Linked DNA regions of Homo sapiens. The protein of the gene in region 1 purifies or fractionates together with the protein of each later gene. This does not show direct contact. Each region holds a gene or a part of one and is shown in the gene's direction. Other genes may lie near its edges.

Region 1 (3,500 bases):
ATGTGCCAGAGTTTCCTTTTTAAGGCTGAATAATATTCTTTTGTATATATATATACCACCTTTTGCTTATCCACTTATCTGTTAAGGAACACTGGGTTGCTTCCATGTTTTAGCGCTTGTGAATCATGTTGCTATGAATATGGGTGTACAAATAATCTCTTTGAGACCCTGCTTTCCATTCTTTGGGGTATATACCCAGAAGTGGAATTGCTGGGTGATATGGTCATTCCATTGTTAATTTTTTGAGGAACAGTTTTCCACAATGTCAGTACCATTTTACATTCCCACCAAGAGTACACAGGGTCCCAGTTTCTCCACATCTTTGCCAACAATTGTTATTTTCTGTTTTTGTTTGTCTGTTTGTTTTTTTGATAGTAGCCATCCTAATGGGTATGGGTGTGTCACGCAGACTGTTATTTTCCTCCCTGGCACGAAGTGGTTGTGCTCTTTTCCTGAGTGAAAGAGTTTTGCTTTATCAAAGTGCAAATGCTGTGGTTCCTGAGACATAACCCTCTCCATCTTCATCCATTCCCCAAGCACACGTGCCAAGTGTTCAGTGATCTCCCATTTACAGGGTATCGAGGCACCAAGCCAGATTCGCTCTTCAAGTTGGAGCAAGGAGAACCCCCAGGGATAGCAGAAGGAGCAGCCCACAGTCAAATCTGTCCAGGTAAGTGAGTGAAAACTAAGAAAATGGGGAGAAATGGCATGCAAATCCCAGCTGGTCGGAGAAGGGTTGATGCTTTTAAAGTGTTCTTTAGAGGACTTCACAGTAGTTGGTGGCCCAGAAACCTAATCAGCCTTTCTGCATCTGTGTCCATCCCTAATAGAGCCGGCTCTCAAAGGATAATGTCTTCCTTTCTTCTATTTTCTGGATCTGATTTCAGTCCATGTCATCGAAGACCTTGAATTCTTACCTGGTTCCATTCTTCCCAGCCTGCTCCTGACTTTTGCCCCTTCCTTACTTGCTTTGAAATTCCCCTCGTAACCCATCTGGATTATGTTGCCTTTTTTTTTTTTTTTTTGAGACGGAGTCTCGCACTGTGGCTGGGCTGGAGTGCAGTGATGTGATCTTGGCTCACTGCAACCTCCACCTCCCAGGTTTAAGTGATTCTCCTGCCTCAGCCTCCCGAGTAGCTGGGATTACAGGTGCCGGCCACCAGGCCCGGCTAATTTTTTTGTATTTTTTGTAGAGACGAGTTTTCACTACATTGGCCAGGCTGGTCTCAAACTCCTGACCTCATGAACCACCCACCTTGGCCTCCCAAAGTGCTGGGATTTCAGGCATGAGCCACTGCGCCTGGCTGGATTGCATTACTTTTAGCACTTCTGTCGCTTAAAAGTGTATCCCGGCCCCTCTGGAAAGGCCTGATTTCCTTCACTGAAAATCACCTCACCTTAGCTCACGTCAATGCCTCCACACCATGTCTCTTGGGGCATCTCTGTCGACTTACTCACCCACTGCTCCCCGCCTTTCCAGCTTCTGTTTTTTTTTTTTATCTTCTGCTGATTCTCCTGGTAGAAGTTTAATTCACTCTCAGGGCCTGAGCTCTCTGGCCCCTGCTGGAGACTCGCAAAGTAGCATGTCTGCTACTAACGTCTCATCTGCACTCTAACCCGCTGCGTGTCGCCAGCCACCAGGACAGCTCTCCGAATATTTCCTTCTTCCAGGATGTGAAACCAGAATCCTCCTTTCTCCCAGTTGTTTCTACCATCATGTAGTATACTCACATATACTAAAGATTTCAGCTGTGTCTTCTGACAAATAGCTTCATGCAGATATCTCCTTTTCTGTAATCTCACCTGCCTTCTTATTCTATATTTTGCCAGCACCCTGGACGAGTATTCTGTGAAATTCTTCTTCCCTCAGCTTCAGGGTTAGAAACTGTGATTCTCTTTCCTCCTGGAAAATCCTTTCCCTCCCTGTGCATTATATTTAGGTTCTGCTGTATTGCTCATCACTCCGGTGCCTGGTCACCTTGGAGTTGCCTTGAGTCTTCTCGGTTTACTCTGTTCTACGTCTGAATGTCTCAGCTGCTCCTGTTAATTTTTATTGTTTTGAACACTCTACTCTTGAAGTCCCACTTCACAGTAGGCCATGGTAGTAGAGGTTCTTATCGCCTCCATTGCTGCACGTTTGACTGACTTCTCTTTTTCTGTGAGTTCCATTTGATGTGATGGCTTCATTCCCCTCTGGGCAGGGGCCATCAAAGCACTGGAACTTGATGAGAAGACATGAGGAGTGAGTGTTGCTTGAAGAAAGAAGAGGTCCACATATATTCAGAGATTCAAAAGAGGAGAACCCAGCCACATAGAAAAAGTATCAGGGTTGTGGTGGGAGAGTCAGAAGATGTCCATGAAATAAGTGACAAAATTATTCCAAGGAGGAGGAAGACATATATTTTATTGAATGCTACAGATAATGTCAAATAACATGAGGACTGACATCTGTGCATTTGATCACGTTGCATTTTTACATCCAGATACTGCCCTCTTTCGCTGTCGGCTCTTGTTTTACTTCCAAGAACTAGTTTTTGACTATGCCAGGGCACATTTGGAGCTCTCTCTTTTTTTTTTTTTTTTTTTTTGTGACAGAGTTTTGCTTTTGTTGCCCAGGTTGGAGTGCAGTGGCCCAATCTTGGCTCACTGCAACCTCTGCCACCCAGGTTCAAGGGATTCTCCTGCCTCAGCCTCCCGAGTAGGTGAGATTACAGGCACCTGCCACCACGCCTAGCTAATCCTTTTTTTTGTATTTTTAGTAGAGACAGGGTTTCAGCATGTTGGCCAGACTGGTCTTGAACTCCTCCCATCCACCTCGACCTCCCAAAGTGCTGGGACTACAGACGTGAAGCACTGCGCCTGGCCACCCTCTTTTCTGACTTTTATCTCCTTTGTGTCTATGCTGCACTAACTTAGTAATGGTCATATATTGTTTTGTGTGTGTGTTTTACTGGTTGGTATGAGGCTTCTTTTACCCTCATTTTATTAAATGGCACCAGCACCTACATAGGTGTTTTAAGCCACATACTGAGCAGTTATCCTCAATTCTTCGCTTTTCTGCTGGGAACATGTGTTCTAAGAGTGAATCCTATCTTTTCCTCCTCCATACTTATGTTCTTGTTTTTTCACATTTCTCCATCTCCATTGTAATTATTCCTGATCAAGCCATCTGAATTCTGCCATAACCTCCAGCATATTCCCTTCTATAATTTCATCTTTTCAATTCATTCTCCATAGGACAGTCATGTTTTGGAACTGTCAATTCAGAACATGTTTTCTTGGCAAAAAAATGTTTGGTGGCTTACTGCCATTGTTCTTAGCATAAATTCCAGTTTCTAACAAAGTCTTCCTCCAAAATCTTCATGTTTTTAATCCTGCCAGCCTTGCCAAACTTTTGTATTTCTACTTCACTCAAGCTCAGGATATTCCGGGTAAACCAGCTTCTCTTACATTTTTTTTTTTTTATCACACCTAAGTTTTTTCTGCCTCTGGGTTTTCAC
Region 2 (3,500 bases), on another chromosome or scaffold:
CTCAGCCTCCCAAGTAGCTGGGACTACAGGCGCATGCTGCCACACCTGGCTAATTTTTTGTATTTTTATTAGAGACGGGGTTTCACCGTGTTAGCCAGGATGGTCTCGATCTCCTGACCTCGTGATCCGCCTGCCTCGGCCTCCCAAAGTGCTGGGATTACAGGTGTGAGCCACCATGCCCAGCCAGTACCGATATTTTAACCTTAGTTAGATCTTCAATTAAAGAGATCATCAACAAGCCAGCTGATGCCAGCTGATGCCAGGAAGGTTCAGTGCCCTGTATGGCAAAATGGAATCACCATAACCTCAGTCCACTCCAAGTTATTTTTTGTATTTTTTGTAGAGATGGAGTTTTGCCATGTTGTCCAGGCTGCTTTCGAATTCTTGGGCTCAAGCAGTCTGCCTGCCTTGGCCTCCCAAAGTGCTGGGATTACAGGCATGAGCAGTTGCACCCAGCTAACTTGTAGCCATCTTTATGAATCGAGTTTTCTCTGTAAATTACTCTCATTTTACTCTTGGGTTTATGAGTTAAATTGGGTTAAGTCTAAAAACATAACAGACACTTAATGACTCATTCCTCAATTGACTGTCTTTAAATTGGCAATCTTTACCTTAAGCGAAGTACTCAGATTTTAAATATACAATTCCTTGAGTTTTGACAAACTCCTGTAACCCCAATCAAGACACAGGACATTTCTCTCACTCCAGAAAGTTCCACTGTGTTGCTTTCTAGTCAATCTCCTCTCCTTATAGGTTACTACTGTTTTGATAATCTTATGGTTTAGTTTCCCGTATTTTTAAACTTCATGTATATGGAATAATAGAGTGTCTGCTCTTTCGTGTTAGGCTTTGTTTTTTTTTTTCTTGAGACGGAGTTTCACTCTGTCTCCCAGGCTGGAGTGCAGTGGCGCGATCTCTGCTCACTGCAACCTTCGCCTCCTGGGTTCAAGCGATTCTCCCGCCTCAGTGTCCCAAGTAGCTGGGACTACAGGCGTGCACCACCACACCCGGCTAATTTTTGTATTATTAGTAGAGATTGGGTTTCACCATGTTGGCCAGGCTGGTCTCAAACTCCTGACCTCGTGATCCACCCGTCTCGGCTTCCCAAAGTACTGAGATTACAGGCGTGAGCCACCACTCCCAGCTCGTGTTAGGCTTTTCACTCAACTTAATGCTTTTTAGATCCATCTGTATTGTGTGCATTAGTAGTTCAGATAACCATTGTCATAATATCTTTTAATCTCTTATATCAGCATATCTAATCACCAAAGATGGTGATGATGGGGCATTTAAGTTTGCACACTTAAATGTACCACCATTTAAGAAATTGCAAAATAGGCCGGGCACGGTGGATCACCTGAGGTCAGGAGTTCAAGACCAGCCTGGCCAACATGGTGAAACCCAGTCTCTACTAATAATACAAAAATTAGCTGGACGTGGTGGCAGGTACCTGTAATCCCAGCTACTTGGGAGGCTGAGGCAGGAGAATCACTTGAACCTGGGAGGTGGAGGTTGTAGTGAGCCAAGATTGCGCCATTGCTCCCCAGCCTGGGCAACAAGAGCGAAACTCCATCTCAAAAAAAAAGAAATTGCAAAATAGGTTCTTGTTGTAACATACATCTTATAGCAAGCAGTGTTTTCTCTACTAATTTTCCTGCCTATTAATTCATCAGAACACACACAAAATATAGGTAGACTAAAAATAGTTTATACTTAATGTATCTGGCTTAAGGCAGGGCATGTTATAAAAGAAATGAAACTAGAAGAGGAAAAGGAGATTATATAATGCTGTATTTTGTTTCTAGGTAGTAGGATAATGAGAACAATGAGGAATGGAGGAGTGGAGACATTGATCTGCCACATGGTCACTCCCCACCATTTTAAATTGGAAAGTTGTTACCTCTGAGTAGAAACAATATGATAGATAACTTCTTATAAAAAATTTTTGCAAATACTTTTTTTTTTTTTTTTTTTAAAAAAAAAAAAACAGGGTCTCACCATGTCACCCAGGCTGGAGTGTGTGGTGCGATCACAGCTCACTGCATCCTCGACCTCCTGGGCTCAGGCCATCCCCCCACCCTTGAACCCCCATCCAACAGTAGCTGGGACTACAGGCATGCACCACCACGCCCAACTAATTTTTATATTTTTTGTAGAGACAAGGTCTTGCTATGTTGCCCAGGCTGGTCTCGAACTCCTAGGCTCAAACGGTCCTCCCACCTCAGCCTCCCAAAGTGTCGAGATTATAGGCATGAGCTACCACACCCAGCCACAAATACTTTCTTTACACTGAATTTAAATGATGAAATAGCCTTGACTCAGAGAACAGAAAGTAAATGTAATTGCTCATTTTAAATAAGCTTTAGGCATCCTCTCTGCATCTCTTACAGATGTAGTTTGATAAATTGTTTGGTGTGGAAAAGTACTGATAAACGTTGAAAATATAGTGATATTTAAGATTTTTCTCCCTTATTTTTGTAGAGAAATTTTCTAGAGTCCTGGTGGAGCAGCAGCAGGACCGAGCCCGGAGAGAGCAAGAAAGGATTCGTCTGTTTTCTGCTGATCCCTTTGACCTTGAAGCTCAGGCAAAGATAGAAGAAGATATAAGGTAAAGACCTGTTCATCTAAAGAACAAAACTTAGAGACTCCAGATTTCCCAGACTGCAGGTTATCTGACATTGGTTGGGCATCTGCTTGGAGGTAGCTTCTCTGTTTTGCAGTTGAGATAGTAACCTCAGTCTTTTAGGTTAGTCTCTCCTCTTTCATTTTCTATGCATTTCGATTTGACATGACAAAGATATAGGTGCTTAGTTTAATGACTTTCTTTCTAAAATTTTAAGGAGGACTCCCTGACTAGCAGACAGAGCATCATAACACAGCTTTAGATAAATGACCCCCGGACTGAGCAGAAGCCACCATCTGGTGAGACCACAAGGCTGGTTGCATATTACATGGGCTGATTTGACTCTCTTTCTTTAGACATATTGTATAAGTCCTGATTAAATCCAGGGCTTAAACATGATTGGATTAGAGAGGGCTCTGCGCCGATGGAACGTTGGTAGTCCTAAGTCTGTTTTCCTGCTGCATTTCTTGTACTGGCCTCAGTGGATAAACTGAATGCTGGACATGTTTCCAGCTCTCAGTTTCTGTAATGCGGTGGTTCTCACCTGGGGCTATAGTAAAATCACATGAGAAACTTTTAAAAATGCAGATGCTTGGACTCTTCTCCCAAATCTGATGAATCAGAATTGTCGGGCATGGAGCTCAAGCAAGGACAGTGACGCTGTTCCGGCCTCAGTCACACTGATAGTCACAAGCAAGATTCTGTTCAGTCATTCTCTGAAAAAAAGGACAGCTGCTTTTCCTGCCTCAAGTCAGTTTTTGTTGCTAATTGTGAAGAACTTAGTATAACTAAGAAGAAGATAACAGCAACGATACTTACTACACTTAGACTGCTTGGCCTTTTAGGGACCGTGTCATCATTCCGGTTACTTAAATGA

What was found. Proteins that work in one complex are often made in the same cells at the same time.
Region 2: the proteins of ZNF577 (region 1) and DDI2 purify together in Homo sapiens (affinity purification with mass spectrometry; one large-scale study listed by BioGRID and IntAct). This does not show direct contact.

What each region holds. Positions count from the first base shown.
Region 1 is NC_000019.10:51,874,452-51,877,951, reverse strand, and holds part of ZNF577 (zinc finger protein 577), read left to right. Parts: intron 1-574; coding exon 575-670; intron 671-3,500. UniProt on the Homo sapiens protein: May be involved in transcriptional regulation.
Region 2 is NC_000001.11:15,630,958-15,634,457, forward strand, and holds part of DDI2 (protein DDI1 homolog 2), read left to right. Parts: intron 1-2,481; coding exon 2,482-2,608; intron 2,609-3,500. UniProt on the Homo sapiens protein: Aspartic protease that mediates the cleavage of NFE2L1/NRF1 at 'Leu-104', thereby promoting release of NFE2L1/NRF1 from the endoplasmic reticulum membrane.